4 separate regions of the Homo sapiens genome follow, and all the other regions are linked to region 3. The links come from fine-mapping of genetic effects on gene expression. A gene starts in region 3. Each other region holds a variant in brackets. All regions are shown on one strand. Distances are between the middles of the regions.

The links. PIP is the estimated chance that this variant, and not a neighbour inherited with it, causes the effect. A credible set is the group of variants that fine-mapping cannot tell apart.
Region 1: its variant is the best candidate, but not a certain one, in a credible set for the expression of AHCYL1 in whole blood (TOPMed, PIP 0.64).
Region 2: its variant is the best candidate, but not a certain one, in a credible set for the expression of AHCYL1 in whole blood (INTERVAL, PIP 0.70).
Region 4: its variant is the best candidate, but not a certain one, in a credible set for the expression of AHCYL1 in whole blood (INTERVAL, PIP 0.61).

The regions. Positions count from the first base shown.
Region 1 is chr1:110,086,378-110,091,377 of GRCh38, reverse strand. The region is part of intron 1 of LINC01397 (long intergenic non-protein coding RNA 1397); the gene reads right to left. Among named protein-coding and RNA genes, the nearest start is that of LINC01397, 6.2 kb to the right of the region's middle. The variant A/T (reference allele first, on the strand shown) is at 2,850.
Region 2 is chr1:110,038,516-110,046,938 of GRCh38, reverse strand. STRIP1 (striatin interacting protein 1) reads right to left here. Exons shown (of 21, transcript NM_033088.4): 3 at 8,182-8,256; 4 at 7,633-7,767; 5 at 7,424-7,544; 6 at 6,236-6,304; 7 at 5,297-5,403; 8 at 5,078-5,205; 9 at 3,669-3,851; 10 at 3,083-3,300; 11 at 2,034-2,099; 12 at 1,861-1,924; 13 at 188-259. Among named protein-coding and RNA genes, the nearest start is that of STRIP1, 8.1 kb to the right of the region's middle. The variant C/T (reference allele first, on the strand shown) is at 4,581.
Region 3 is chr1:109,980,149-109,987,132 of GRCh38, reverse strand. It overlaps AHCYL1 (adenosylhomocysteinase like 1), which reads right to left and starts at 2,368. Exons shown (of 17, transcript NM_006621.7): 1 at 1,961-2,368. The coding sequence starts at 2,080. RefSeq lists silencers at 1,823-1,892, 2,073-2,142.
Region 4 is chr1:110,012,623-110,021,045 of GRCh38, reverse strand. It overlaps AHCYL1 (adenosylhomocysteinase like 1), which reads right to left. Exons shown (of 17, transcript NM_006621.7): 5 at 8,047-8,149; 6 at 6,189-6,283; 7 at 5,515-5,621; 8 at 4,586-4,702; 9 at 4,316-4,379; 10 at 3,463-3,551; 11 at 3,030-3,100; 12 at 2,579-2,673; 13 at 2,396-2,494; 14 at 1,927-1,995; 15 at 1,420-1,498; 16 at 195-315. Among named protein-coding and RNA genes, the nearest start is that of STRIP1, 18 kb to the left of the region's middle. RefSeq lists an enhancer at 1,829-3,028. The variant C/T (reference allele first, on the strand shown) is at 2,084.

The DNA of each region.
Region 1 (5,000 bases), 110 kb before region 3:
ATTTATAGTAAGGATGTAAATTTTCCTTTAAAAAGATGTGTGTGTGTGTGTGTGTCTGTGCATGAGTTAAAGAAAAATGTTAATGATACAAGTGACACTCAGATGTGGCAAAAATCATGAAAATTACTCAAGTCACTAAAGTCTGAAAAACACAGCTCTAAAAGATGCTAAAACAAAAATATGAGCTCTGCCTGAAATCCCAGCACTGGAAGGCCGAGGCAGGCAGACTGCTTGAGCCCAGGAGTTCGAGACCAGCCTGGGAAACAAAGTGAGAACCCCGTCTCTACAAAAAATACAAAACATAGCCAGGCATGGTGGCACGTTCCTGTAGTCCCAGCCACTCAGGAGGCTGAGGTGGGAGGATTGTTTGAGCCTGGGAGATGGAGGCTGCAGTAAGCCAAGATTGTGCCACTGCACTCCAGCCTGGGCAACAGAGTGAGACCTTGTCTCAAATATATGTGTGTGTGTGTGTGTGTGTATATGTGTGTATATATATGTATACACACATATATATACACATATATATATGAGCTCTGAGCCTCATATTCATATACAAATCTCATAATCACTCAAGCCACCCTAAGACCAAGGATGGAACATCCCCCTTCCCTTCACAGCTCCCTGCAGGCTGCAGGTGGATAACTTGCCCTCTTCCAGGCCACTTTGGGATTTGCCGTGCAGGGATTTCACCAAAGGGAAAAGTTCTCTGATAATTCTTACCATCTCAAGGCCACAAAATTGATGTTGTTAGCAATGGTATCCCTCTAAATGCTGCAAATCCATGAAATGACTTCTGAATCAGCAAAGATTACTGATTACTCTTTTAAAGAATAGCTGCAACTGATCACATTCTGACGGGAGTAGAAGTTCTGGACAGCAGTGTTCCCAGATGGTGCACTCTGCAAAAATGAGTGGGTTTTGGCACGTTTCAGTGCCTGGCCTAGGGCCGACCCTGAGGGGTCTCTGAGTCTTAGGTGGTCCACACACAGAATTGCCTGCCAGAGTCAGATGAGTGCACCCGTGTGGGGTCCACAGACACAAGCAGAGACAAAAGCTCCGGAGGAATGAGGTCAGGAGATAATCAGATGCGACTCCTGCGGCCTCTCCAGGACCCTGTGGAAGCCCCCACAGCCCTTCTCAGGAGACCTTTTGGCCCAGCAATGTTATACCAAAAGTAGGAAGTGTGGGTTCTGGGTTCTCAGCACCTCCAGCTGCAGCTGGGCTGAGGAAGGCACAGCTGTCCTGCCTAAGGCTGTGTCTCTTGTGAAGGAGAAACATCCGGTCAATTCCATCAAGAATGTCAGTCAAAATCCCAGGGAGGGATCAGTCAGCTCAGCCCTCCTATCCAGCCAGCTTTTGTGCCCTGGGAGCAGGCCCCTGGACTGTCCTCAGCCAAGACAGGAGAGGCCCATCTCCCAAGGGCTATGGCCTTGCTGCCCCTCATCCCACACTCCTCTCCCACCTAAAGCTTCGGGCTGGTAGCCTGCAAGTGAGCAGGGGTTGATGCAGTGGTGCACAGGCCCCCGCAGGATATGACCCAGGATGTGAGGACCCGCAGGCTGGAGGAGAGATATGCAGAGGTGAAAGGGCAAACCTGTTTCCAGTCTCCTTATCAGGAGTAGCCGAGTGAAAGGGAAGTGGCAGCCCCGGAGGTCAGGCTGGGGGGTTGTGGCTGGGGCAAGGCTAGGCTAGGTCTCCTGAGAGGAGACCCCGCTGGGCAGGGAAGAAAGAGAAAGGGGGTGTGGAGGAAGGGCCAGGGAGGGAAAGGGCTGGGAGCACTGACTGTATGGCCCATTCCCAAGGGGAGGAGCAGCAGGGTGACCAGCCACCCAGGCTTGCCCCAGACTGAGAAGCCTCCCAGGACACAGAAGTTCCCATTAAATACTGGGATGGTTGGTCACCCAGGAAGCAGCCCTGGCTAGGGGACTGTCAGAACCCAGCCACCTGCACCCCCTCCAGAGTCCCAGGCTCAACCACCACCTTGTCTCAATGCCTTCTTACTTCTCCCCCTTAGTTATTCATTCAGCAAACATTAACAAAATGCCTACTGTGTGTCAGGCCTGCTGCCAGGCTCTGGGAATTCAGCAGTGAAACGACAGGCATGCTCTCTGCTATCCCAGAGCTTGGAGATTATGCTTCCTTCAAAGCCACAAGGGACACTTACTCCCCTGCTGCCTGCCCCACCAGCCCATCCCCCGGGGCATGTTTCTAGGGAGCCCTCCCTCAACAGTCTTAGGTGGTCCACACACAGAACTGCCTGCCAGAGTCAGATGAGAGCACCCGTGTGGGGTCCACAGACACACGTGGGGATGGTGTCTAAATCACTGTCCCACCTGCCATGGTGCCTTGCATAGGGCCCTGTGCAGGGAGGTGCTTAATACATGTCTTTTGGTTGAGGAGCTAAGGTGTTGAGGGCCAGCTGGAGATGGGGGTCCCTCGGTCACCTGTCAATGCTCGCAGCCTCCCGCCACCACTGCCAGCACCCACCCATATGCGCAGGGCACGCCTCATTGTCAAGCAGCATTCTCCCTGCCCCAGCACAGTGGGGCTGACCTGTCCTCTCCTCAGCTGGGGAAAGTAGGCAGGCCTGTGGGCAGACCCCAGTCTAGCGTGGGGGTGGGGGTCCCCAGGATGGAGGAGTGGGACAGGAGCTGGTTTGTCTTCCCTGAGCAGAGAGGCCTTGGCCTTGGGCTCCAGCATCCTGTTCCCTCAGAGGTCCCACATGAAGAGAAGCCACAAGAGTCAATATGCCTCATGTGTGCCTGGGGGCTTCTTGCGGAGGCAGAGCCAAGCCTAGGCTCCTTCGGCCTCGGTCCTTGCCAGTGGAGAAGCCAGTGGGGACCCTGGGC[A/T]GAAGCTAAGTAGGTGAAACACACAGAGACGTGCTGTGGGGGCAAGGAAGTGGAGCAGTGCTGGAAGAGACTTGGGGTTCCAGCTACAACTCCAACAGACTCCTCTCCCCAGTTAAGGAGTAGGGGATTGTATCATTGAAGCCACTGAGGGACCATAAGCTTCTTGCAGGTGGGGGCCACAGGGCAGTGCTTACAGTAAGCTCTCCACCCTTTATGTGGAAAATAAGCCTGGCCCTCAGACAGCAGAGCCCCATGTTTCTGTCCTGCACCCTGGTGGCGTTTTATCATATTGCAACTCATGGGATATTACAGAAGAGGGAGTATGAGCTCAGCCCAGTGGACGCCCGTCTTTGGGGTCTGGCTTTGAGATATCATTAGGATGGGATTCCTGAGTGTTCTGGGAATAGCTGGAACCCAGCCACTCCCAACCAGCTGGGGCGTGGGAGAAAAGAGCAGGACTCGGGAAGACCATGCCAGAGAAAAGGGTAGCATGCGATCCGGTACACTCTCTATCCACAGGCCACAGACACACAGGAAAGGCACAGAAGACACCCTGGGACAGGGTAGGGGGACGTGGTGGAGGGCGGGAGGGGTAAATGGAAACTCAGGTGTCCAGAATTGGATTATGGCTTAATCATAGTCTTTGGTTACTGACAGGCTCTCAATCTTTCGTTAAGTATTCACTTAGGTAGTTTTCATAGTGCACAGGCGCCTGTGAACCAGGCATTATTCACTTAGCTTTCATAGTGCACAGGTGCCTGTGAACCAGGCATTATTCACTTAGTTTTCATAATGCACAGGTGCCCGTGAACCAGTGATTATTCACTTAGGTAGTTTTCATAGTGCACAGGCGCCCGTGAAGCAGGGATTATTCACTTAGTTTTCATAATGCACAGGCCCCTGTGAACCAGAGATTATTCATTTAGTTTTCATAGTGCACAGGTGCCTGTGAACCAGGGATTATTCACTTAGTTTTCATAATGCACAGGTGCCTGTGAACCAGGGATTATTCACTTAGTTTTCATACTGCACAGGTGCCTGTGAACCAGAGATTATTCACTTAGTTTTCATACTGCACAGGTGCCTGTGAACCAGAGATTATTCACTTAGTTTTCATACTGCACAGGTGCCTGTGAACCAGGGCTTTTCCTTCTTTCACTCTCTCTCTGCCACAAAACCACCCTTTTCGTCCAAAGGAAACTCCTCATGGAAACCCAGTACATGAAAAATGAAAAAGTGAAACTGGTCTGGCTGAAGTGGAGGTGGGGCCTGCCCACTGTCTACTTGGCCTCCCCGTCCACTGCCCCAGCAGCCCTGACTAGCCCCTGGCAGATTTGTGGAATGCGATCTACACCATCAGGAGCCAGGAAGGCAGGAATCTGTTTCCTCCATTCCTATGCCCAGTGACCAACACGTGCCCAGTTTGGTTACTCATTTCAACAAATGTTGGGTGAAATGTACTGAAGGAGATGAACTTGTTCCAACCACCACTCAGGTCAGGTTTGGGGAGGGGGCACTAGAAAGTGTCTCTGCCTCAGGATATCCTCCCCATCAGCCTACCACAGTGTCTAACATTCCCCATCACCATGCAGCCTAACCCTGCATGTCCTTCAGGACCCAGAGCAAACACTACTTCCTCCACACAGCTTTCTCAGATGTCTCCAGCCAGAGTCATCTCATTGCCCTTGAACGCTGTAGCCACTTGTTTATCTCTCTCTCTCCTGCATCCTTCACACTCACTCAGGCTTCTGCCTAAGTTCCTGACATACATGTCTCATTTCCCCAGTGGTGTAGACACTGCACAGCTCCAGGGTGGGAGATGTTTAACTGACTTTGGCATCCATCTCAGTGCCTTCCCATAGTAACGTTCCATAAATGTTTGAGGAAGAAAGAAAGGTCTTCTGGTGCTCCTTAGGACGCCGCTGTGTCTCCAGGAGAGCAGCTGGAACCAATTTGACCTACTATGACATTAGCATGAAGTTTATATACTGCAAACTGTCACCATGCAGAAAGAATAGAAGGGGATCCAGGAAAAGGAAGATTTGGTGAAAAGAGACATCTAGGGCTCCAGTGGTACCACAGCTGCATGCACAGGATGGGTCTCTGGCCCTGTGAAAGAGTCAAAGTGTGGCTGAGGAAGAGCTGGCAGTA
Region 2 (8,423 bases), 59 kb before region 3:
AGCTGGGACTACAGGCGCCCGCCACCACGGCTGGCTAATTTTTTTTTTTTTAGTAGAGACGGGGTTTCACCATGTTAGCCAGGATGGTCTCAATCTCCTGACCTCATGATCTGCCCTCCTCGGCCTCCCAAAGTGCTGGGATTACAGGCGTGAGCCACCGCGCCCGGACTGAGGACCTCCAACTTACCCCTGAGAGAGGGGAGCGGAGGTATTCCTCCTCCATCTGTGCCTGGACCTCTGCAATCGACGTGTACTTGTGCTGGTGGGAGAGATGGGAAAAGAAGGGCTGGGGAAAACATTCTCTGGCCAAACTCCCTGCACTCTAGCAAAATCCCCACACATTTGTCTTCAAACACAGTCTTCTGAAAGAGGATTAAGTCACCACAAAAATCCCTAGCTAAAATCCCAAACCCCAGATATTTTTTATTTTTATTTTTTTGAGATGAAGTCTTCCTCTGTTGCCCAGACTGGAGTGCAGTGGCATGATCTTGGCTCACTGCCACCTCCGCCTCCCAGGTTCAAGCAATTTTCCTGCTCCAGCCTCCCAAGTAGCTGGGACTACAGGTGTGCACCACCACACCTGGCTAATTTTTGTATTTTTAGTAGAGATGGGATTTTGCCATGTTGGTGAGGCTGGTCTTGAACTCCTGACCTTAGGTGATCCACCCACCTTGGCCTCTCAAAGTGCTGGGATTATAGGCGTGAGCCACCATGCCTGGCCCCAAAATATTTTTCTAAAAGGGCCCCTTCCTCTTGCAACTACAGTAAGAAGCCCATGGTAGATAAGAAAAAAGTAAATTAAAGGAGGGAAATGGCCTTTCAGATAGCTACAGCAACAGGAGAAAAACTGAAAGCAAAATCAAGTACTCAAAAAGCCTAGCTGCAGAGAGACCACTTAGTACTACAAATTCCAAAAATATATTTCAAAAACATAAAAACAGTTTCACTCCAGATAGCTGTTAGGGGAGATGCCTCTTCCCCACTCTTAATGTTCTCTCCCGTGTGGAGGGACAGGGGTTTGCGAAACACCCCTCATCTCTCTCTGCCCCGTCCACACACTCACTCCTCCCTTCTCTGATCGGAGAGTATGGGAGGGGACACAGGGCGGACTTGTCCTCACCCTTCTCTTTTCTCTTTAGAACCTGTCTGCCTGCTGAGAGTCTGCTCTCTTCTCCTCCCCGCCACCAAGCTTGGCAGAGCCTCCCCACACTGCCTGGGACTGGTAGGTAACTCTGCCTAATTCTGGAACAACGTATTAGGACACTACTGCTGTGTTCTTAAGCCTCATTCTCCATGGCTCTATGAGCTATAAAGTTGGCATTACAATCTCCATCTGCCTACTCCTCTATTTCAACCGCCTGAGAACGTGGGCAAGGAAAAGGAGGGCTATTTATTGAGCTCTTTAGAATTTCAACAACTGTCAAGTAATATAATCCTTTTTTTTTTTTTTTTTTTTTTTAAAGAATCCGGGTCTCACTCTGTGGCCCAGGCTAGAGTGCAGGACCATGATCATAGCTCACTGTAGCCTTGATCTCCTGTGCTCAAACAATCCTCCTGCATCAACCTCTTGAGTAGCTGGGACTACAGGTGCATGCCTTGGTGCCCGGTGGTCAGGTAATATAATCTTTAAAGACTTCCCAGTCAGTCCCAAACAAAAGCTCAGCTAAAACAAGTAAAACTTATAATAAAACAAGCAAAACTTACGAAAGACTGTTTGCAAGGTTATTGCAAAGTCCACCCCGGCCTCTACCCCAGGTTCTTGCAGGCAGACAACAGTCTTAAAAGGCTTCTCCCTACAGGCTGGTTTCACTCTACTCACTTAGGACCAAACAAGCCAAAAGCTCACCCAAAGCCACTCACCTGTTTCAGAGTCTTGATGCTTTCGTGGATTGGCCTGGGCAGCCCCACCACTGTGTTCGTGTCACTGGAGAATAAAGAAGGCCCTGTGTTGAGCCTCGACATCAAATCACCTGGGATCCCAAACACCAAAGGCCGGGAGAGCTAACAGCAAAATGAACTCGGCTTTTACTCACCTGCCTAGAGTGTAACCTATAAATTTGCTGCGGCTGGACTCAAGGAACATCTCAATGTCTTTCTCTCTGCCACATCACCAAAAAAGAGAGAAAGAAAAAAGGTTTTTAGCAAATGCTATTTCAAAGTGTTACAGTTAACAAAAACACAGCATCCAGAAACTGTGAAGCCAGGAGAAGTCTCCTATAATTGTTTTTCTCTTTGAAAAAAGGGAAAAAACTGAAATTTTCAGAGAATTTTAATGTTTCTTATAATTTTGCTGGATCAGTAACCTGGAAATACATGTTAACTAGTTTATTCATAAAATTAAAGGGATATATCAAACTTAAAAACATGCTTTATTCAGATAGTATGAACAAGTTTGTCAACAGACTTTCTTAAATATTAAAACTTTTAAACAATTAAAGCTATAGGCTACTGATTTTTCATATAGCTCACTTTTCCTATCCCAAACAATCAGCATACCTTGCATTTTCTGATGATCTGTTTTGCATTCCCTTCACAGATCACTGAAAACTGAGGCTTTACCTGGATCAAGAAAGCGACTTCTATATCCTCTCACATGTTCATCTATTTCTTAAGCTGCTGCCTATCAAACAGACACCATTTATATATCTCCAGGTACCGTCCCATCCATCGATTTACCCACATATATCTCAAACATTTTCATTATGGCTCTAAAGAAACTCTTCCTTAATCTATCATTTTTGTTAAAAACCATACACAACCCCAGGATGGGTGGAGACATGTTTGCTTAAATGCTTTTGTTTTTATTTGTTTCCTATCCCCCTTCACTAGCACATCTAACCAAGAGCTAACTCCAATTACTGCCTCAGTAGCCACATGAGGGCCATGTTGTGTGAGACCAGCAAGGCCGGCCTCCCTGAGACCCTCAGGACAGCACAGGGTGCTTTAAGAGAGCCTCATCCCAGAGCCACGGTCAGCCTGCCCTGCAGAGGACCACACATGGTGACACAGGCCAGGTGGCAGGCCTGAGGGTGTGAGGGCTCTGCCTCAGGAACTATGAGTGCTCTGGAGGTCTGAGACTCACCTGACCTTGGGAGCCCACGGGAGCCCTTTGGGGCAAGTCAGCCTGTCAGTCTGTGGGTGCTGTAGCGGGGGAGGCATCACTTCATCCCGTTCCAGGGGAAACGTCTCCCCCTCCAGACTGTTGTCATCATCATTCTCCTCTTCCTCTTCTCGAGAGTCATCAGCCTTGTAGGGATCCCGCTCGTTGAAGGCATCTAGGTTGTCCTGCTTTATCAGAGCCTGAAACCAGGGAAGGGAGATGAGACAAGAGCCAACTGAGGACGCAGACCAGGGAAGTGCAGCCAGAGGAGACACAGCACATACAGGTGTCCAGTAGAGGCAAGAACAGTGGAAAAACCACAGTGGGAGTCAAGACGGGGGCCAAACCATCAACTACTTCTTGCTCCAGTCCCTCAAAAGCACCACGTGCTGAGCACTCACCATACACTGGACCAGAGCTGGGGACAAAGTATCCTCGCTGTGGAGGCATGATTCTGACTGGCTGATCAGAGATCATTTCCAGCAGCCCTGCTCCTCCAAGGACTGTGCTGCTGCAAGCATGCACCTTGAGGGCCCTCAGGAGTCACAGGGACCTCTGTCGTCCTCACCTTGTGCTCTCGGCGGCCCCGTTTCTGCTGCTGCTCAATCAAGTCTGAAGCAGATGCTGGTGGAGAGGCTGCTCTCATGTTGCGAATCACTTTGATGCTGTCCTCAGGAAGCGGGGGGAGGCCCAGGATGCTGCGCTTCTCAGCCTTCATGCTCTGCAGCTCCTCAAAGCCGCCTAGCGTGCACTGCATCACAGACAGGGAAGCAGAGCCAGGGTCAATGTGTCCACAGGCTGGCCCCTGACCATTGTGTCAGGCTCAGAAACATTCATGACATCATGACCCATGTCTTTATAGAGACCCAGGCAACTCCTGAACAATGGACTGAAGCCACTCCCAAGGAGAATTCCGTGACATCCGCAAGGGAAAGGAGAAAAAGGAACAAGGAAAGAGTGGAGATGCAGGCTGACTGACCCTAGTGCAGATACACTAACTCTGCACCTATGACATACTCTTCAATTTAAAAAGAAGCAAAGAGCCTAACCCTGCAAGTTCCTAGAAAAGTTGGTGAGACTCATGTTTCACAAGTTGTACATGCAAGTCTTTCAAAGTCAAATTAGAAATACTGTTGGTTGCTCAACTTTAGAAGAAGAAAAAAAGCTTCATCTAAACATCTCCCAAGAAGCAGAAACGCCAGCAACATCCAGCTTTAGACTGCTTAGTTTTACTGTTTCTGAGCAATTCAGCTTTCCTCTCTAGCCTTAGCAAGGCTTTATGAAGAACAGAATGTGTGGCCAAGATAAAATGTGTCAATGACTTTTAAGAAATCCTATACTTACTGAGCCCTGGCTCCAGAGTTGACCCATTCTGAAAGGAAGGATGAGCCCCAGTGTAGCAGAGGCCCAACTCACCTCCACCGCCTCCCCATGTCACTCCTCCTGGGAAGGCCTCCTGGCATGGCCTGGCTGCTAACAA[C/T]GCTCCAAGCCCAGTGTGCTGGACGGCCCACTCTGGCACCCAGTCCCTCCCTACCTAGACACAGAGTCGGGCTGACACCATACCCTGAAGAAAATGGAGGCTGGCTCAGGGCTCACTCTTGCCCCTTTAAGTGATATCCAACCAGGGCCCCAATTACATCAGCTGTAACTTTGCCTCAAATCCCTTTACAAACTCCAGGTCCAGAGCTGCTTGCTGAGAGGCAACTTGTCTGGGGGAGAGCTGTTCTATGACAGAAAACAGCTTCCGGGGTCAGAGAGCCAACAGCCTACTCTGACTCAAGGCCTATGTCCTCGTTGGCTGCAATGGGACAATAGTGGCCCTTCTTTTGTCATCTCCTTTTAGCAGCTTTTTAAATAATTTTTTTTACCAAAGCAGTTTTACAGTCACATAATTCAATATTCAAAAGGATATTCAAGGAACAGTCTCCCTACTGCCCATCCCATAGCACCGTTCTCCTCCTCCAAGGAGGTGCTCACCAATACTGTCTTCCAGAGCAGCAAGAGAACTTTCTTCATGGGAAAGTGAGGGGCGTGACCACTGCAAAATTTGGTCACCATCCCAAACAGCATGATGGCAAATGGCTCATTGTTGTACAGCGGGGAGCCTGGAGGTGACACAAAGGTATCAGGACCCTCCCAAAGCCTTCCGCCTCAGCTTCCAGGCAGGGCCTCTAGAGAGGATCCCCAGGGTCCTACCCAGCTCGGCTCTGAAGGTCTGCCGCATGGTCCTCCACTCAGCCTTGTCACCCTCACACTCCTGATGAACGGTCTCCACTATCAGGTACATGATGTTGAGCAGGACCCTGAGGACAAGAGCCAGCTCACAATGGAGTGGGATGGGGGGGTCAAAGGAGCACCCTAGTGTCTAACAAAGTGCTTACACAAAGCAGGGGCTTACTATTAATAAATGGTATCTGAATAAATGAGTATGAACAAGAATGGCCAAAAGCATTTACCACCCTAAGCTTCCTGAAAAGAAAAAAACCACAGAGGTGGTAGCGAGCTGTAGGGTCAAAGCAGAACAGGGTCACAGTGAGAACAAAAACAGGGTTTATGATGAGGAAATGGAAAGCAGGAGCTGAGAGGTGACGCCCAGGGATCCTAACACCCGGGAGGCAACACTACAACCACCTAGTCTAAAAACTTCCAAATTCATAAAAAGAGCCAGATTTCAACCCTCAAAAACTGAGGGGTGATCTTGGTGGTCAGCAGTTGCTGTGAGCTCCTGGGCAGCCATGAAACATTAGGAAGCTGTCAGGTCTAACCCAATGAAGATGAGCATCAAGCTGTGTACACAAGAAGGTGGGAGTCCAGGGAACACCATCAAGTGTTTCATCCAAATACAAAATACCCCACGACCAGGTCCTGAGTAACAGTGTGAGTAGGAGGCCACACTTAGCTGTGGCTCTAGTAAGTCACTTGACCCTGGATTGCCTTTGGGAGTCTCAACCCAGAGTCCCACCTAGGACGAGCCCTCAGCAGTTCCTACTAATCATTCACACTGAGCCCATCACACATGCAGATGATGTGTACAGAAGCACACACAGCAATGACACCCACAGACAGCCTCCCACACCCTGCTCTGATCTCATCTCTGACTAACGCTCAGGAGCCCAGGCTTGCTGCTCGCCTCACCTGAGGTCTGTGCTGTCAGCCAGGGAGATGGCAGGCTTCCTCACAGCACTGCTGCAGGCGGCACTGTTGCTGCAGGAGATTTTGAGAGTCAGCATCTTCCTCCAAGAAGGAAGATAAGTGATGTCCCTGACAAGTACTGACCAATGGGGAAACAAAATGCTGTGATACGTGCTTGGACTGCACAAGAGGCCACAGGACACGGTGGTTAAGAAACCAGACCATGGCTGGGCATGGTGGCTCATGCCTGTAATCCCAGTACTTCGGGAGGCCGAGGCGGGTGGATCACCTGAGGTCAAGAGTTTGAGACCAGCCTGGCCAACATGGCGAAACCCCATCTCTACTAAAAATACAAAAATTAGCTGGGTGTGGTGGCAGGCACCTGTAAACCCAGCTACTCAGAAGGCTGAGGCAGGAGAATAGCTTGAAGCCGGGAGGTGGAGGTTGCAATGAGCCAAGTTCACGCCATATCACTCCAGCCTGGGCAACAGAACAAGACTCTCTCTCAAAAACAAAAACAAAAACAAAAAAAACACAAAAACAAAAACAAAAAACCCAGCCATGCACTGGACTGCCACGGTTTGAATCCTGGCTCTAACTGCGCCTTAGTTTCCTCATCTGTAAAATGGGGATGACAGTAGTACCTATATCCTTAACATGAATTAGCACATGTAATATTCTGAGAACAATGCCCGGGACACACAGGCACTCAATGAGCTGTCTTAGCTTTATCATTGATGGTGTTATCCTTAGATGAGCAGCAGCTGACCTGTCCACTGGACAAAGGTGACACAGGCAAGGCCAGGCACTGGTTGAGCCCATATGTCAGTCTTGTGCCTGGCCTCCTGCCAAGGCGGAAACTGCAGGGCGAACACAGCAGTGTCTGCAGGTTCAAAAGAGAGCTCAAAGTGAAGAGTCTCCTTCTGAGGAGCACCCCAGGCCTGGGCAGGGCCTGCACTGTCTGGTGTAAAAACTCTGGCATCAGGGAGCTGCAGGGACCTGTCATTAGTCTCCATTAATCTTCAAGGTGTAAGTGACCAACTCCGTTATTCAACCCAGGTGGTCAGAACACAGCCTGGGACCAGAACTTCTGCCCCATTTAACCCTCTCAAAGCCAGTTAGTTCTGCAAGCTCTGTCCCCCTTCCCATCCCAGCCTCCCCTTCCCTACTCAGCCTCTCAAAAATGCTCACTCTATTTCCATGTTCAGAAGCTCCACCAAAGCATTGAACGTGCCCACCTCCAGGAGGAGAAAGATGTTGTAGCGCATCCAGGACTGCACCTCTGCCTCCGAGCTGCACTCCCCAAACGTGCCTGCAATGCAGGGTTCAACTCACTGAGCCCCTCCCTGCATCTGAGTGGGCAGAGGTGCCAGGGAACCCTGGGGAGGTCCACTCAATACCTTGAGCAACATAGAGAATTGCTCGAGCCACCTTGAGTCTCTTCTCCCTGGCAGTGACTTCCAAGCCATCCAGGAGCCTCATGGCATGGGTCCGGTGCTGGTTGGTATCCAGCTCAGTCCACTTCTTGTCTGTCACTGCAGGGCAAGAAACCAGTTACACCTGAGCCTAGAAAAATCCTCACAATGGCATGGACCCATGTTAACTCACCAAATTCAGGACTGCCATAGGACCAGAAAGATAAGTTACACCCTATGTAAGTGGTAAGATCATACTGCTGCTCTATGAATTTGATTCCAAACTGAAACGCTGGTATTTTGGGTGCAATTTTAATCACATGATTTTTTTTTCTCCCCTAATATGCACATTCTGAAAAGCCCCCACCGATGTGCCACAAGCCCACTCTACATGTATCTGGCTTTGAACCATCAGGGTTCAGCAGGCTTCTCAGGCTGTTCCAGGATGACTCAGGTCATTCAGATGCCTAAAAGAAACCTGCAGCTCTCGTTATGCAGGGCAAAGGAAGCAAGAAGTGTGGGAAATCATCTCACCATGGATCCGGAAGTCCTCCTCAAAGCATTTTCGATTCATCAGGAATTCTGGCCCTTCCGTGTAGCTGTAAAGCTCTGTCAGAACAAAGTCTCGTCACCATTGGTTCCATGTCTGCATTGCACACCAGGTCTCACAAGTGCAGAGAAGGCAAGGCATTTGCTTCCACTCTCAACTCTGCCCCTGAGTCATAGTGACTCCTGGAATAAGCTCTCTAATTATGAAGGGGATCTTAGTGCTCTGA
Region 3 (6,984 bases):
CAAAGTACTACGTAAATGCTAAAGAATAAAACTTAGAAGAGAAAGATTAATAAGAAACACGGTGGGGCACATTTACTGGTAAATGGAAACTTAAAACAGGGTCTTCCCACATTCCTGGCAGAGCCTGCTTCTTTTAGCTAATGCAATATAAGTCTAAAATCATCAGCACTTGGCCTGACAATAATACACATTAGTAATATTCCTCCTGGGAAGAAGAGAGGAAAAGGGATAGTTATTCATGGTAGGTGGCCACATGGACATCTCAGTTACTAGTTAGCCAGGTGAGCAATTAATATTTGAGTACCTACTGTATGCTGGGTACAAAGCTAGGCACACTGGATACAAAGGTGAACAAGAATCCCTGCCTTAATGAGTTTTTACAATCTACGATATAGACTTTGTCTTATCAACAGTGGTACTTTCAAGAATACAGATTTACTAACATAAAGGCAAGTAACAGCAAAGAAGACAGAGTCTGGGAAATTCAGGTATTAGGGCTTTCCCATTCTTTCCTCTAACTCATCTAAGGTCCCACCCTCAATCATTCTGCTTATAAGGACTGTGACTGTTTCTCCAAAGAATAGTGCAGATTGCAAAGGGTCATTGTCCCAACAAAGCAGTCAACTGAACTCTCAGCACTAAAGTTAATCAGATGCCTCAGAGTCAAGGAATCTTCCACAATCTTTTAAAGGAATTAAATTCTTAATTTTGTGAGAAAACAGCGAAAGCACACAATGGCGACTCGTCTTTTTTGATCTTGCATTTGATTTCTGGAGTGGCAGGTTAATTCACTTAAAAAAAAAAAAAAGAGCCATCTCTCCCACTTAAGACAGCTTAACTAGTTGAAGCCTCAAGGACTTAACTATTCCTGCAGCCCTTGCTTTGTTCAGCCCTGCATCCCATTAAACACTGGATGCAGGCAGAGACAGCTTTGTAAGACTCTGTCTTTATAAAGAAGGGAGACATTTATCTGGGTTCTCACTGGCTTCAGGAAGGTCACCTCTTTGTAAAGGTTCTCTGGTCTACTGCTAACTGGGTGCCAGGTGTATGGAAAATCAAGATGTGGTTGGCAGTAAATGATGAGAAAGCAATAAGGATCCCAATTCCACCACTCGGAGAGCTAGTCAGACTAAAATCTCCAAAGGTTGCCATTTATGAGAGAATTCGAAGGGTGTCCTTTGAGTCAACCTACAGCACAATAGATCAAACTTGTTCTGCCTCAAAAGTACAGTCAAGAGTGAGCAATCTTCCCTTACCACCCACTACTCCAACCCACCCAAGCTCCTTTCTCCAGGGATGCCTAAGTGATCTATTCACATGACTCTAGGATCCACCTGTATCCATGACAGTGTCTGCTGTCACCAACCTCCAAATGTCAATTTCTTACATATTTCGAAGTAATTGGAATGCTGTAGAAAGTGAAAATCATAGATTTTCAGTTTCATGTTACCCTCATCGCTTTCACCTGTATATCAGAGCTAGCTTCACGCATTCTTTTCTCTTGCCTCCCAGCTATCACGCAGTTGTTGGATAAAGCGGCCACTGCTCCCAAAGATTTGATGGAAGTTCTGCCAGATTTACCCACTCACCTGAAGGGAGATTTTCTGTACACCCCATGCCCCCGGACTGGTCACAAGGGTCAGCTGAGTTGGTTCACCCCCTCCCACTCTCGTCTTCGAGGCCCTTCATCCAGGAAAAGTCAGTCGCAAATTTAAGGCCTGGCCCTGTCGGGTTTCAAAACGATCCCGGAGGACTTGGGCCGAGGGACAAAGGAAAGCGAGGTCAGAGGCGGCCTTTCAGCCCGGGAGAGGCCTGGGGCCGCACAGCCGCCACCCCCTACATCACCTCCGCCGTCCCCAGTCACCCCCAGAAGTCCCAAACTAGCCAGAGCCCGGGCTTGCTCGCGTCCCTTCCGCGAGGCCGGAGCCCGAGCCCCCGCCGCCACCCAGAGCCCCCGCACCTTCTTGGGCGCCTTGGTGACGGTGGCCATGAAGGAGTACTTCTCGGCGTCCTCGATCTCCTTGGCCTGCTTCAGCTCCTCCCCGACCCCGGGCAGCGGCATCGCGTCAGGCATCGACATTCCCCGGCCGGCCCGGCCAGCGGCTGACCCGCCGCCCCCGCCTCTTTCCCCCTCTGGCGCCCGCCCGCCTGCCCGCGCGGCGCCCTCCGACACGCGATCGCCCACCCTCCTGCCGGCCCCTGCGTCGAGCTGCGTCGGCTTCTGAGGTGCTGTGGCCCACGCCTTGTCTGTTCGGCAGCCCAAGGCAGCCGGACAGCGACGGCGGCCACAAGAGAACCAGAACAGCAGCTCCGAGCTCCGACCTGCCCGCGCCGCCACCTCCGCTGTACGCAAACACGCACGCAAAGCGAGGGTAGAGGGCGGTGACGCCACGTCAAGTACTGGCAGCTCCCGGGAGGGGGAAGAGGCGGGGAGAAAGGGCACTCTGTCGTGACGTCACCACGCTGGGCTGGGCCACAGAAGCCGTTCCTCTCCCGCTCGAGAGCGAAGTTCCCAGGGTGAGCAGGACCCTTTGTGCCACCAGGTGGCACCATCAGCCCTGGGAGCAGCGCGAGGTTCATGCAACGATGCTGCGGAACGGAGGGTCTTTGGGCTGCGGGGTTCCTGGCAAGGCCTCAGAGGCGCATGAAAGGGGTGTTTGGGAGCAAAGACCAGAGCCCCACACGACACATCCTACAGCGATTCCTAGGAAATGTCCGGGGCTCGAGACAGCCCACTCACTCACTGGCCCAGCCCCAGGCCCTTTGGATTAAAGCTCCTTCCCAAGGGGCCGTGCCTGTCTTTTTGACTTCATAGGGGGCAGAACTGACTCAGAGTAGTCTGGTTTCTGCACAACGCTTTGTGACTTCCTCCACCACCATCTCCGACTGGGCCTTGCCTGTTTACAAAACCCTCATTGGGATAGGGCTGATGGGTATGAGGGTGGAGACCAGGAGAGCTGATGGAGAAGTCCCCAGCCAGAATGGCCTTCCGGTCCTTGCTCCACCAAAGCATTAGACCCTTCCAGCTCTCAGTGGGCATCCAGGACATTCATGGACTGCTCACACCCTTTTACTGGGCCTACTATGTGCAGTGCCTGTGCTGAGGCCCTGCTGGCAAAAGGACATGTGACGCATTTTATGTTTTGCAAGGCTTAGTTCAGCTGGAGAGGCAAAACCTGCTTGTATCCTAATGTCAGCTGAGGTAGCTTGTCCTTTGAGATTCAAATGACATTGGCTCCAATTACCATGTCCTGTGGAAAGTCCATTACTGGGAGGACTTGGATTTTCATGGTCACCTCTGGCTCTAGTTTTTTTGCCTTGTCTGGCATTTTATTCACTATTCTGGTCTTGTGACTGTTTCTGTAGCTCCTGGGGTCAATTCAGCCGCTTCTCCTTTCAACCCCCACCCCATGCTAAACAACTACAAAATAAGGCTGTAACATGTAGTAAAACTTTTAATAAAGGTTTGTGGGTCACAGGGGAGAGATTACATCACACAGCAAACAATTTAAGAACACATTTCTGAAATGTTCTGAAAAGTTATTTTGGCTGTCTTACCACCCGGGGATTTCTCAATGGCCACAAGATCCCACCACGCTCCCTAGCCCATTGCCATCTAATCTAGCTTCCTCCTGTTCCTCCCTTCCCATCTCTGCACCTCATCCTTCCTTCCTTGATAGACTCTGGGAAGCCAGATTCTCCTCTGCTGTGCTGAGCAATTCCAGTCTTCCCAGTGCCCTTTCCCTAAATTCCTCCCCAGGACCACCTTTTTTTTTTTTTTGAGATGACGTCTCGCTCTGTTGCCCAAGCTGGAGTGCTCTCAGCTCACTGCAACCTCCGCCTGCCGGGTTCAAGTGATTCTCCTGCCTCAGCCTCCTGAGTGAGTAGCTGGGACTATAGGCGTGCGCCACCGTGCCCGGCTAATTTTTGTATTTTTAGTAGAGACGGGGTTTCACCATCTTGGCCAGGCTGGTCTCGGATCCTGACCTCGTGATCCACCTGCCTCGGCCTCCCAAAGTGCTGGGATTACAGGCGTGAGCCACCGCGCCTGGCCAGGACCACCTTTTAACATCCAGAAACCTCCCAGGTTTTTAACAGGGCATACCCTTTCAAGAAGGAAGTTTTGGTTTGAAATGGCATTTTCCCCACTGATTTGTGTTCAGGGCTGGGGAGAGTGTGAAATATTCACCTCTAGGGCCCTAAAAGTCTTAGTCAGGGAATCCTGTGTTCCAGCCACCTAGCCTCATGAGACTGTCTGTTTGAAAAGGGCTGTAGAAGTGCCTGGAAGAATGCACCCTTTGCACATCTGCAGACCTTGGTCTTGAACTGTTTGTATTCTTTCATCTGCTCACTTTTTTGAGCACTCACACTTCCCTGTCAGGGGCATCACTGTAGCAGAACGGGAACAGAGATGGAGACCAGAATACCAGGTTCATCCATGAGGGTGCCAGACTGACATCTTTCAGCTAGGGGTCAGGAACCACACCTGGTGCACTAAGGACTCTCTGAACATAAGGCTCACAGTGGCTTTCATCCTTGTGGGTTTGCCCAAACTGTTGGCAGAGCCCAGGGATCAGAGATGCCTGCCCAAAGACTCGAGGCAGAACCCATTGGAACCAGGGATGAAATCTCAAGTCCCTATAGTAGAAAAATGTGTGACTTAAGAAGATCTTTTTTTTTTTTTTTTTTTTTTTTTTAAAGAGAAGCATCAGTGTATCTGTCTTTTGGATTTGATTTTTAGAACTCACTTTGTCTAAACATGTTGTCTCTCAGTCCCCCAGTTCTGCTGTGCATTTAAGCATCCAGACTGTGAGCTTCCTGGAGATTGAAGTTCAGTCTTTACTCCTCCTGGACCAGGTCTGCCCTAGCACCAGGCTCACAGTGTTGTCTGCTATTGCTGCTGCTACAGAGGATGACAGACAGGGCCAGGCCTAGAGCATGCAGTACCTTAGCAGTCTGGGCTAAGAAGGAGATCAGCAGGTCAGACTCCACTCACCTGAGTGGCTGGCCTGAGGGGAGGTTGATGAGCTGATGTAGGAGAGTTCGGGGACTCAGACTGGAAAGGGGAAGGGCAGCACCCCCTACCCTGGTGGAAAGCATTAGGCCTATGTGGTTCAAGTGAGGCCAGGGGCCCGGGACATTCTTGGAAACCAGCCACTGCAGGGGGCATGGGTGGCTGCCATCCCTTCCATCACGTGTGTGCTGGAGAGCAAAGAGCTCACCCAGCCAGGGAGTGTGACAACATAACATCCGTGAGAATCATTGCATCCTGTCTCCCACCCCCAAAACCCATCCTAAGATAGCCTCACATGGCACAGCTAAGGCGATTGCTTCTCATGAATGCCAAGAGATGACTTGTCTTCAGCCTACCCACCCACCTGACTCAGCACCTCTACTGGCAAGCTCACTGCCCTGAACAGCGCATCCACACACAGGTGAGAGACCCCCCACGGGGCAATTGGAGAAGAACAGGGACCCAAAGACAGATGCACCTGCTGTGTGTGGTGGTGGGAAGTCTCCAAGGGCCTGGAGCGAAGACCCTTGCTAGAAAGGAGTGGCCTAAGGGCAGTGGTGAATTGGGAGATGCTGTCACCAGAAATGTAGTGGCATTGGGCTACCACACGTGGGCTTGGTCTTGTTAATCAGATTCACTGTTTGTCCACCCCCAAATTGATGTTCTACATTCAGTCATTTGTTCTTTTATTTATAAAATATATATTGAGTGCCGAAGAAGTGCCAGCAGCAGGGCTAGATGTCAGTCGGGACTACAGAGATAAATAAGCTGAGGTGCTGATCTCTACGTGGGGACAGGTGATGGGGGTGGGGTGCAGTGGAGGGCAAAGGGATGACACAGAGGGAGATGCTGCCAGAGCTGAGTCTTGACAGATAAGCAGCTGGGCAAGGGAGGGAAGATTCTCCAGGCTGAAGAAACAGCCTGAGAATAGGCATGGTGATGGAAACAGCTTGGCATATTACGGGAACTGTAAATATCCCCATGTGGGTGGGGCACAGGGTGCAAAGCAGGGTGAAGTGAGCGCTGAAGCCAGGGCCAGATCCTGCAGGGCGTGTTAAGCCCTGGGTGGGTGGTGGTGATGTCTGCCATGCTGGGGAGCACAGGAGGAGAAGCAAGTGTGGCTAGAGGGGTGGAGGGGGGCTGCTGAGAGGAGTCAGCTTGGGACATGTTGAGTTTGATATGTCTGTGGAGGGCACTGTCCCTGAGTCTCAGGGGAGCCCAGGTTGGCACCTTTTGGAACTGCCCGCTCCCTGCCAGTCAGGCTCCCCACCAGGGGGAGGCTGTGCTCCTCCTGAAGGCCTTTCACCTCCTGTCGGCCAGGTGTTATGTTAGCCCTCTGGAATGAAAGTGCAGAAAAACTGCAGAGATCTTGGGTGACAATGGAAGTTCGGAAGAAGGTGAAGAGGGCAGTGGCTCTGTCTCTAGCTCTCCAGCATGGGCAAACCCTCCAGCTCCAGGCTTCTTTCTGTCCCAGAACTGCTACCTTGCACAGCTCTAGGAGGCACCACTGACATTGTAATTATTGTGAAAGGTGCCCTGGAGCACCACTTCAGATTGGTCACCTACCTCGCTGGCCCTTAGGGACCCCCAGAGGGTGGGCTCCCGGTTGCACCTCTGTGGCTGTGGGTGCTGGTCCTCAGGCTTCCTGGCTCCTACTTCCCACCGAGCTCCCTCCCTCCCTACCCTCAGCCTTTTCTCCTTCCCCTTCTCCAGTTCCAGTGGGAAAACATTCCTCCTTCTCTGTCTCCCCCTCTGCTTATTATTGTCATATTTATTAGGATCACTTACTCTTTATTATCATTTTGAACATTATAGGAAAGAAAAATCCATGAAGATTTTTTAAAAATTTCTTTTCATCTTGTTAAGTTCACTCCTAGTTCTTAGCAATTTGCAGAAACTCATTTTTACATACCTGTGATTGGTAGGTTCATGTCCTTTTGTATTCTGCTTTGATCAAATTACAATATTTC
Region 4 (8,423 bases), 33 kb before region 3:
CCTCAAGTGATCCATCCGCCTAGGCCTCTCAAAGTGCTGGGATTACAGGCGTGAGCCACCGTGCCTGGCCTGGAACAGATTTCTTGTATTCTTCAAAATCAGGTACAACATTTGATCTTTATGTCAGAAGCAGGCTAGCCTGCTTGGTTTAATACTGGGAAAAAGAGCTTTTCACTTGCTTCTCCCCAGGTTACCTGTAATAATTAGGTTTGAATGGCCCATTTTTGTTGAGTCCCAGATATTTTGCTTGGTCATCTGTCAGCTCTGTAAGGTGGGCATCAAATGATGGCAGATGCAAGCTGGCAACGTATTCATCTAGGAAGAGCAAAGTGGCAGGAGAGCAGACTCCTTTTCAAAATGTCTCTCAAGTTATAACTTCCCATTTTCATTTGAAGCTTTTTTAAGAAAGCAGACAAGGGATGGAATAACTCTGAAAGAATCCACAACTTGAAATATTTGCTTAATTAAAAAAAAAACCTCAAAGCTGCCTTTCTGGGCAGGATGCTTCTCTCAGCACATGTACAGTGCGTTCAGAAAAGCCACTTACCAGGGTAACAAAAGGGAGTGGGCTTTTACCTCTCTATCCTTCTCTGGCAAAGCAGGGGGCTTCCCTGCAGTGGCCCACATGTCACATGCTACTCCTACCTTCCTGCAGCAACCTCCTTAACTAGATTATAGTCAAATTAGCAATCAAAGTGGACACCAGTAAGCTAGAAAGACCCTGTGTCAATAACACTCATTTAGGATAAGATCCATGGATCTTAGGATCATGAATTTCTAAGGTAGTCGGCACAGAATTTTTACTTTTCCATAGATAAGCTTCCCTTTTATAATTATACACTGAAAAAAAAGTCTGAAGTAAGCTATTGGAGGAGAGGAGAGCAAGAAGTATTTTAGCATTAAGAAGTCAGGGATTTGGGCTAGCCAAGGAGATATGGGAGATGGGTACACCGTGCAGAAAGGCAAAGGACTAGAGATGATGTATTATGTCACATGAACACAGCATGGGTTGCTTACAAGAGATTGGATGGTTTGCATATCCTCACAGAAAATGGACAATAAAACCTGTGTTTGTTTCTCTCATTTTGTTCCAAGGCTGTATGTACTCAGCTGCACTGGGAAGTTTACTGAACTTCATAAGGCTACTTAGAGTAAGAACATCTCCCTAAACCATTGTGTTAAGCACTGTTACTCATTAGCTGTGATTCTCACACAATTCTACAATGTATGTAGTATTATTTTCATTTTACCAATCAAGAAACTGAGGATCATAGAGATTAGAACTTGTCCTGAGGTCAAACAACCAGTAAGCACAGGAACAGGAATTGGAACTCTGACTCTAAATCCAATGCCTTTCATGGCAGTCATTTTACCAAACTATGCAGCTGTCTGCATAGATTTCCACTGTTTTTCACTCACCCATTTTCTTAGGAAGCAAGTACACATCCTGCTTGTATCGCCCCTCGGGTGCATTATAGAGTTCTATCAGTGCCAAAGCCTAAGGTGGGAAAAGAAGGCCAGAAAGCACAAAAATATTTCTTAGACAGGCACATAAAAATAAAACCAGGTTAAACAGCATTTGGGTAAGTACTACAGTGATCTACCACAGTCACAGTACCTAGGACTTTGCCTATACTAAAGGGCAGCACACATCCTAAGAGGATTTGTTGTTTTTGTTTAGTTCCTAACGAAAGAACAAATCAAATAAAACTAAGCTGGAACATTATATTCTCAACTAAAACAGCCAATTCAACGAATACTGACTTAGTGACTCTTTTCTATACTTAAGAATACCTGTTTCCACAATTTATTACATCAAAAAAGAATAGGATGATGAGAACATAGTACAGTACACCCTCACTGGAACTGATCTACGCCCAGTTCCACAAATTGCAGTGCAGTGTAAGCAGGCATTTTGCCACATACCTGTGTTGTGGCTGTGATGGACAGAACAAAGGTGGGAACTGTGGAGCAGCTCAAATTGAGTAGACGACCCTGGAAAGGTAAGAGAGAGCCCTGGGATGAGCTCTGTCTCAGATTCCAATGGCATACAAGTCAAGCCAAAGCGGGAGAGGACTTTACA[C/T]CCCTCTAGACTCAGTTGGAAGAGGAAGAATTACAGTTCCAGATCAGGACTCTAGGCTTTTTCCTATTTTCTGCAAATCCATCTGAGTCTGAAAGGTTAAAGAATCAGCTGTGGTTAGGAAATAGTGTTACTTAGTAAAAAGTAGATTTTTTTAAAGTGGTTTTATTTTGGGGACCAATTTGTGAAATATCTCTCTCTCCAAAGATAAAATTCAGGGAAACATAGGCCTAATATTTGTTTCCCTCCCCTCCCCCCTCATAGATCTAACTACTCTGCTTGTGCTGCTCTGCCAGGGTCCTTCTCTGTGTGTACCTCTGCCAGGAGGACAACTCGTTTGCCATCTGGCCAGATGACATGGTCCACCTGAGAACGTACTCGCTCCCACGTCAGCTCCGGAGTGCGGAGGCTGGTCTGAAAGGAAGAAAGCACAGTTGACTATGGTTATTAATGAAAGGTAGTAGAGAAATGCCTAGCAACAAATGAGAGAAGCCTTACCACATCGATTTCTGTGTTGGAGTGGCCCATATTGCATACGATACAACTGTTTTTCATGCGATCCAAGTGCTCCCGTGTCACTACATTCTTATTTCCTAAAAGAAAAGATGGGTGGTTAAGGAAAGAGATGCCGGGCAACAAAGGTACTGGCTGGCTTTCAGGTAGAACATAGGAGACCAGAGGCTTGCTGGCATTAAAGAACATGTAGACATTCTGAGAGAAGACATGCATAACCGCTCCTTAGGCTATCTGGTCTTCAGATCAAGCAGTATAAAAAGTCACCAGGGAAAAAAGTTTTTTACTCTGGAAAACATGTTAAGGTTCTGATAGCTTATTCTAGTTCTGAGACCTTTATACTGAACAGAGGTCTCACCTCCTTTGTATGAAAGTCACTCAGACTACTTTCAAGATTTAGCCTCTGAATAAACACTTCTCTATGCAAGTTATTTACCTGTGCAAGTTATTACGACATCGACTTGCCGGATGACTTCATTTAGCTTTACCACCCTGAACCCATCCATGCTGGAAGAAAAGAAAGGAACACTATGAGTAAAGCAAGAAGGCAGTGGGAGGGAAGATGGTCATGAAATGAGACAAGATCCCCTTCTAGTTGGATCCAGTGCCACCTCACAGGAATGGTGAGTGATAAGCTCTGCTAAACTATATACACTGGCCTCTTCAGAGTCCCCAAGACTCCCTCTAGGAAGGAAAAATGCCAAGAGGCTCTCAGAGAGCCCTAGGGTTAGAGTGAGAAGAACAGAGCAGTCCTAGCCTTCTCTTCCCCTAGGTGATTTCTGCAAAAATGATTAATATACTCAATTATGAACTCTCAATAACATAAAGCACCTAGAGTGAATCTAATAGTATTATCACTCTGTTCTTACCAGGCCTGCAGAGCACAGATGGGGTCGATTTCGGTAATGTAGACAATTGCTCCAAGAGCTTTGAGAGCAGCACAGCAGCCCTTGCCTACCTGCAGAACAAAAGAAAGGTCAAGTCGTTAGGTTCATTAAGTCATGGATATTTAGGGTAGGTAGGTTATTTGTGAGACAGGAATTAACCTTCATGAAATAGCCTGTCATCTGGTGAGCAGCTGCACAGACGCTCCAATCCCAAGCAGAACAGAAACAGACCCAGATTACGTTGTGAACCTCAGTTAGAGAGGTAATTTAGCAGACATGTCATAGGAAGGACTGGGGCTTTGCATAGCAGTTTTCATCAGGGAAACAAGACTAAGCAAAAGCAACTTACTCTAAGCAACCTCTAATTTCCTATTCTCTTACTTGAGAAGAATCTACTCAAGGATACCCTCGTAGCTCAGGAACTTCTTTGGGTCATTGCTGAAGACAACAAAATATGTGACCTATTCCAGTTTGGAGATATTCAACTATATGCCATTTCAGATTCCACCCTTAATTCTACTGCAAGTCACTTGTGGGGCTAAAATGCTATATATTCACTTGAATTAAGTCTCATTAAAGGTTATTGTTATAATTGGGGAAGATGATACTAGTATCTATTCCACAAGGCAAAATGGTAAAATCTGAAAACTCAATTCATTTTGTATGTTTCTATTCATAAATCTGAATAAAAGGCTTTTGCTATTGTTTGAGATACATTATCTAAAAAAATTTAAACCTTGTATCAGTGACTCTAGATTGACAGCACAAGCCTCCTTTACCCAATATTTCTAATAAGTACACAAAAAGAAAGAGACACTGAGACCCAGCTATTTACCTCACCATAGCCACACACCACCACTTGTTTCCCACCAAACATCACATCTGTGGTCCTCTTCAGGCTGTGGAAACAGACAAGGGCTCAACTCAAACGTTAATAGCTCAAACTCAGTCCCTCTTCACAAAGTTAAAAGTGTGGGCCAATGCCCATGAGAATATCAATTGGAAGCTGGTTGAGCTCAGTATGAAATGGTCCCTCTAATAAACTTTTAAAGCCAAAGGAAGACCAGAGCCCCTAGAAGTTTGAATATATATACATTCAACCTACCCATCCAAAATGGATTCTCGGCAGCAGTACAAGTTATCAAACTTCTGTTTGGTAACAGAATCATTGACGTTCATGGCCGGAACACAGAGCTTCCCAGCTTTGGAGAGCTGATACAGCCTAAAGAGAGAAGAGGTCACAAAAACAAACAAAAACCAAGTTAGCTGGCACAACATAATTTGTGGCAAAATCTGCCTAATTCTCTTCAAGTTCCATGCTGCCCTTCCCAGTCTCATTTATTGCCCAAGGATATTAGAAAACATGATTATTTCCTTGTCATCCCTCCACACTTCTTTTCATTTTCTTCTCCCTTTACCCCTTTTTTGGAAGAAAAAAAAAAGCCTTTCAATTGAAGAAATGTACTTCTCTTCCCTTTATAGGGAGTGTTATTTCCTTTGATCAGCATTTTTCAATAGAAACCCATGCCTACTTCTGATAAACAAAGACTATCAATGATTCTGATATGGTTCCGTGTGTGTGTGAGTAAGCATGCGCAATGTGCCCCCAAGAAACACTCTTTCAGATATCTTTTCAGTATTCCAACAAGCCAAGAATATTTTGCCCAGTTTTACTTTTTGTAGTGTGTATAACATGTAGTTTTACAATAGGATTGTTTTTCATATTTCAAATATAAAATGATAATACAATATTGAATACAGTTTTTCAAGATACATTTATTCCCTACCCGCCCCTCAACACTAGTTGAGAATCACTCAATGGAGTAAATGGGAGAGAAAAATGTATGAACTAGAACCTGAAATAACTTCCTTCTAGGATCAACTTGATTTTTCAAAAGTAAAAACTCAAAATTTTATCTAATGAAGATATTCCCATTTAGTTATAAGTCTGAAACACAGTCCTAAAGCCTAACAGAGACCAGGAGAGTTTGCTGAGGCAAGGACACAAGGGGCAGCTACTCCAGAATCTGTTACCTGTGAACACCAGTCACGCTCTCTTCCACAATGCCTCGGATCTTCTTAAACACGTTTGGATACTTCTTATAAACCCAGTGGGTTAAGTCTCCCCCATCATCCAGGATCTATAGAACAGCCAGAAGACTTCTATGGGCATTCAGGCTGCTAGGGCTGGGGGGAACTTTGAACCCACTTTCTGTACTAGTAAGAGAGCCCTGTATGTTTTGGAAGAGTACTCCTCAGAGCTCCCTAGAGCAGGCTTAGAGAGTGGAAATACAGTCAAATTTGTTGGTGTAAAATGGTTAAAAGGATTCCTAGGTTTGCTTTAGGCTACAGTGATGAGTATTAAGCTAATCACAGACTCATTTTTAGTCTAGAGTCTTGAAATATATAGCCCCTTTGAATGCAAAAGGAGAACTGGGGCAGGAAGGAAAGAAAGCAGAATCCTACTCCAAAGAAGCACCACTATTTTGTTCTGGTGTGTTTGAGCCATGTGTTCAGCTAGTCTTACCCTTCCCCCACCTTTCCATTCAGTACTCAGACCCATTCTGAATAGGTATCAAGCTAAACACTTTAGCAACAAAGTCAGTGCATAAGACCAAACATCCAAAACATATTTAGGGAACCATGCTTTGAGGGAAAAAAAGGAAATAAATCTATTGTCAAAGTGTAGGATGTATATGCATTATTACCATGTTGGCCTGCCACCCATCCATGTTCACACAGCGGTCAATACACCACCAGAAGTCATCTTCTGACTCGCCCTTCCAAGCGAACACTGCAACTCCTGTAGAGACAGAAATGAATCAGCTGATTCCTCCTTTGAGGAGTGTCCTGTACCAAATCACTTTCTGAGATCCATGTGAAGAGAAAAAGGCAAAAGAAACAATTTCAGAAGGGAAAAAATTCAGAGCCAAAAGTCAAAGAATCACTTTTGGTTCAGAAATTAATTAGGTTAAGAAATTAAGGAATTTTTGCTTTAAAAGTAGTTTGGAACCTTAAAGTGTTCCTTTCTCTGGACTAATTTTATACTTAGAAGGAGATAAAATGAAGTGGGAATTAATAAAAGTTGTTAACTGGAGCATTATTGATATTAGTAAACATCTTGAAACAACCTAAATGTTCTCCATTAGGAAAATAGTGAGGTGAAATCACATAGCCATATGAATGACTATTACAAATGATGCTGTCAAAGTTTTCAGTGACATGGAAAACTACGTCTGAAAATATTGTATTTAGGTTATAAAACTGTATACATATTAGAATTTATGTAAAGTAGAAGAAAGGAAAAGGAAAAACATTAATCAAATACTCTATGTAGTGGGATTGTAGGGTTTTGGGGAACTTCCTAAATTTTTTGCAGTGAACACTTATCAGAAAAGAATAAACAAAAAAACCCAAAAGTATTATAAAGTTGCTTTCTGAGGATCTTAAAAAGATGAGAGGTCCGGCTGGGTGTGGTGTCTCACGCCTGTAATCCCAGCACTTTGGGAGGCCAAGGCAGGCAGATCACTTGAGGTCAGGAGTTCGAGACCAGCCTGGCCAACATGGTGAAACCCCATCTCTACTAAAAATACAAAAATTAGCTGGGTGTGGTGGCATGCCACTGCAATCCCAGCTACTCAGGAGGCTGAGGCATGAGAATCACTTGAACCCAGGAGGCAGGGGTTGCAGTGAGCCGAGACTGCGCCATTGCACTCCAGCCTGGGCAACAGAGTAAGACTCCATCTTAAGAAAAAAAAAAAAAGAAAGAAAGATGAGAGGTCCTCAAAGAAACTTCACGGTGATTTTCTTCTGAATATTTGAATAATAAAAATTATTATTATTGTTATTAATTTTTGAGATGGAGTTTCACTCTGTCGCCCAGGCTGCAGTGCAGTGGCATGATCTCGGCTCACTGCAGCCTCTGCCTCCCAGGTTCAAGTGGTTCTCCTACCTCAGCCTCCTGAGTAGCTGAGATTACAGGCGCACACCACCACTCCCGGCTAACTTTTGTATTTTTAGTAGAGGTGGGGTTTCACCATGTTGGCCAGACCGTTCTTGAACTCTTGGCCTCAAGTGATCTGCCCGCCTCGGCCTCCCAAAGTGCTGGGATTATAGGCGTGGGCCACCAGGCCTGGCCTGAATAATAAAAAATTATTTTACGTTTAATTAAACTCACAAATAGCTCATATATTTTCAATGCCATACTGAATACCAAATTATTTAATGCACTATCAATATGAAAGGTACTTCTTACTTGTGCTCTCTCACAAAATTGATGGCACTTATATAGTTTAACATTCTTCCTCGTTCAACTAACACTAGAACTGGGCATGACCCCATGCCATTAGATTATTTTCAAAGGCCATTTTTAATGACTACATAATATTCCACCATGGATATCCATCTTAATTTTATTATCCACTTTCTTCCTGTTGAGGTTTTTATCATGCACAATTTTATAGCCTCTAGACATATATGATATTGTAATGACAATTTTGATACAAAAAAGTTATATGTTTGGATAACTATTTTGGGGCAAAGTTGGTGGGAAAAAACCGAACTTACCAGCCTCAGCCAGTGCTGCAGCTACTTCATTCTGAGTTGAGTAGATGTTACAAGCAGACCAGCGGCACTGAGCCCCCAGGGCACAGAGTGTCTCAATCAACACCTGTGTAGAAGTGTAGGAAGACAGGGTGAGGAAGAGAAGGGCCACCCAGGAATGGAGAGCAAGCCTCATCAAGATAGCAATACCTATCAACTCTGCACCAACAGGTGCTACACTGGAAAGTTACAAAAGGGTGTACTCCAGCGAGGTGGTGCACTGGTATTTAACTTTGCATAAAACATAGGTTTCTAAAAGTCTTTATAACATTTTATAACAATCATATGTTTGCAAATCTAGACTTTCCTAGGTCAAGTTTGCTGAAAGTGGGTTTACATAT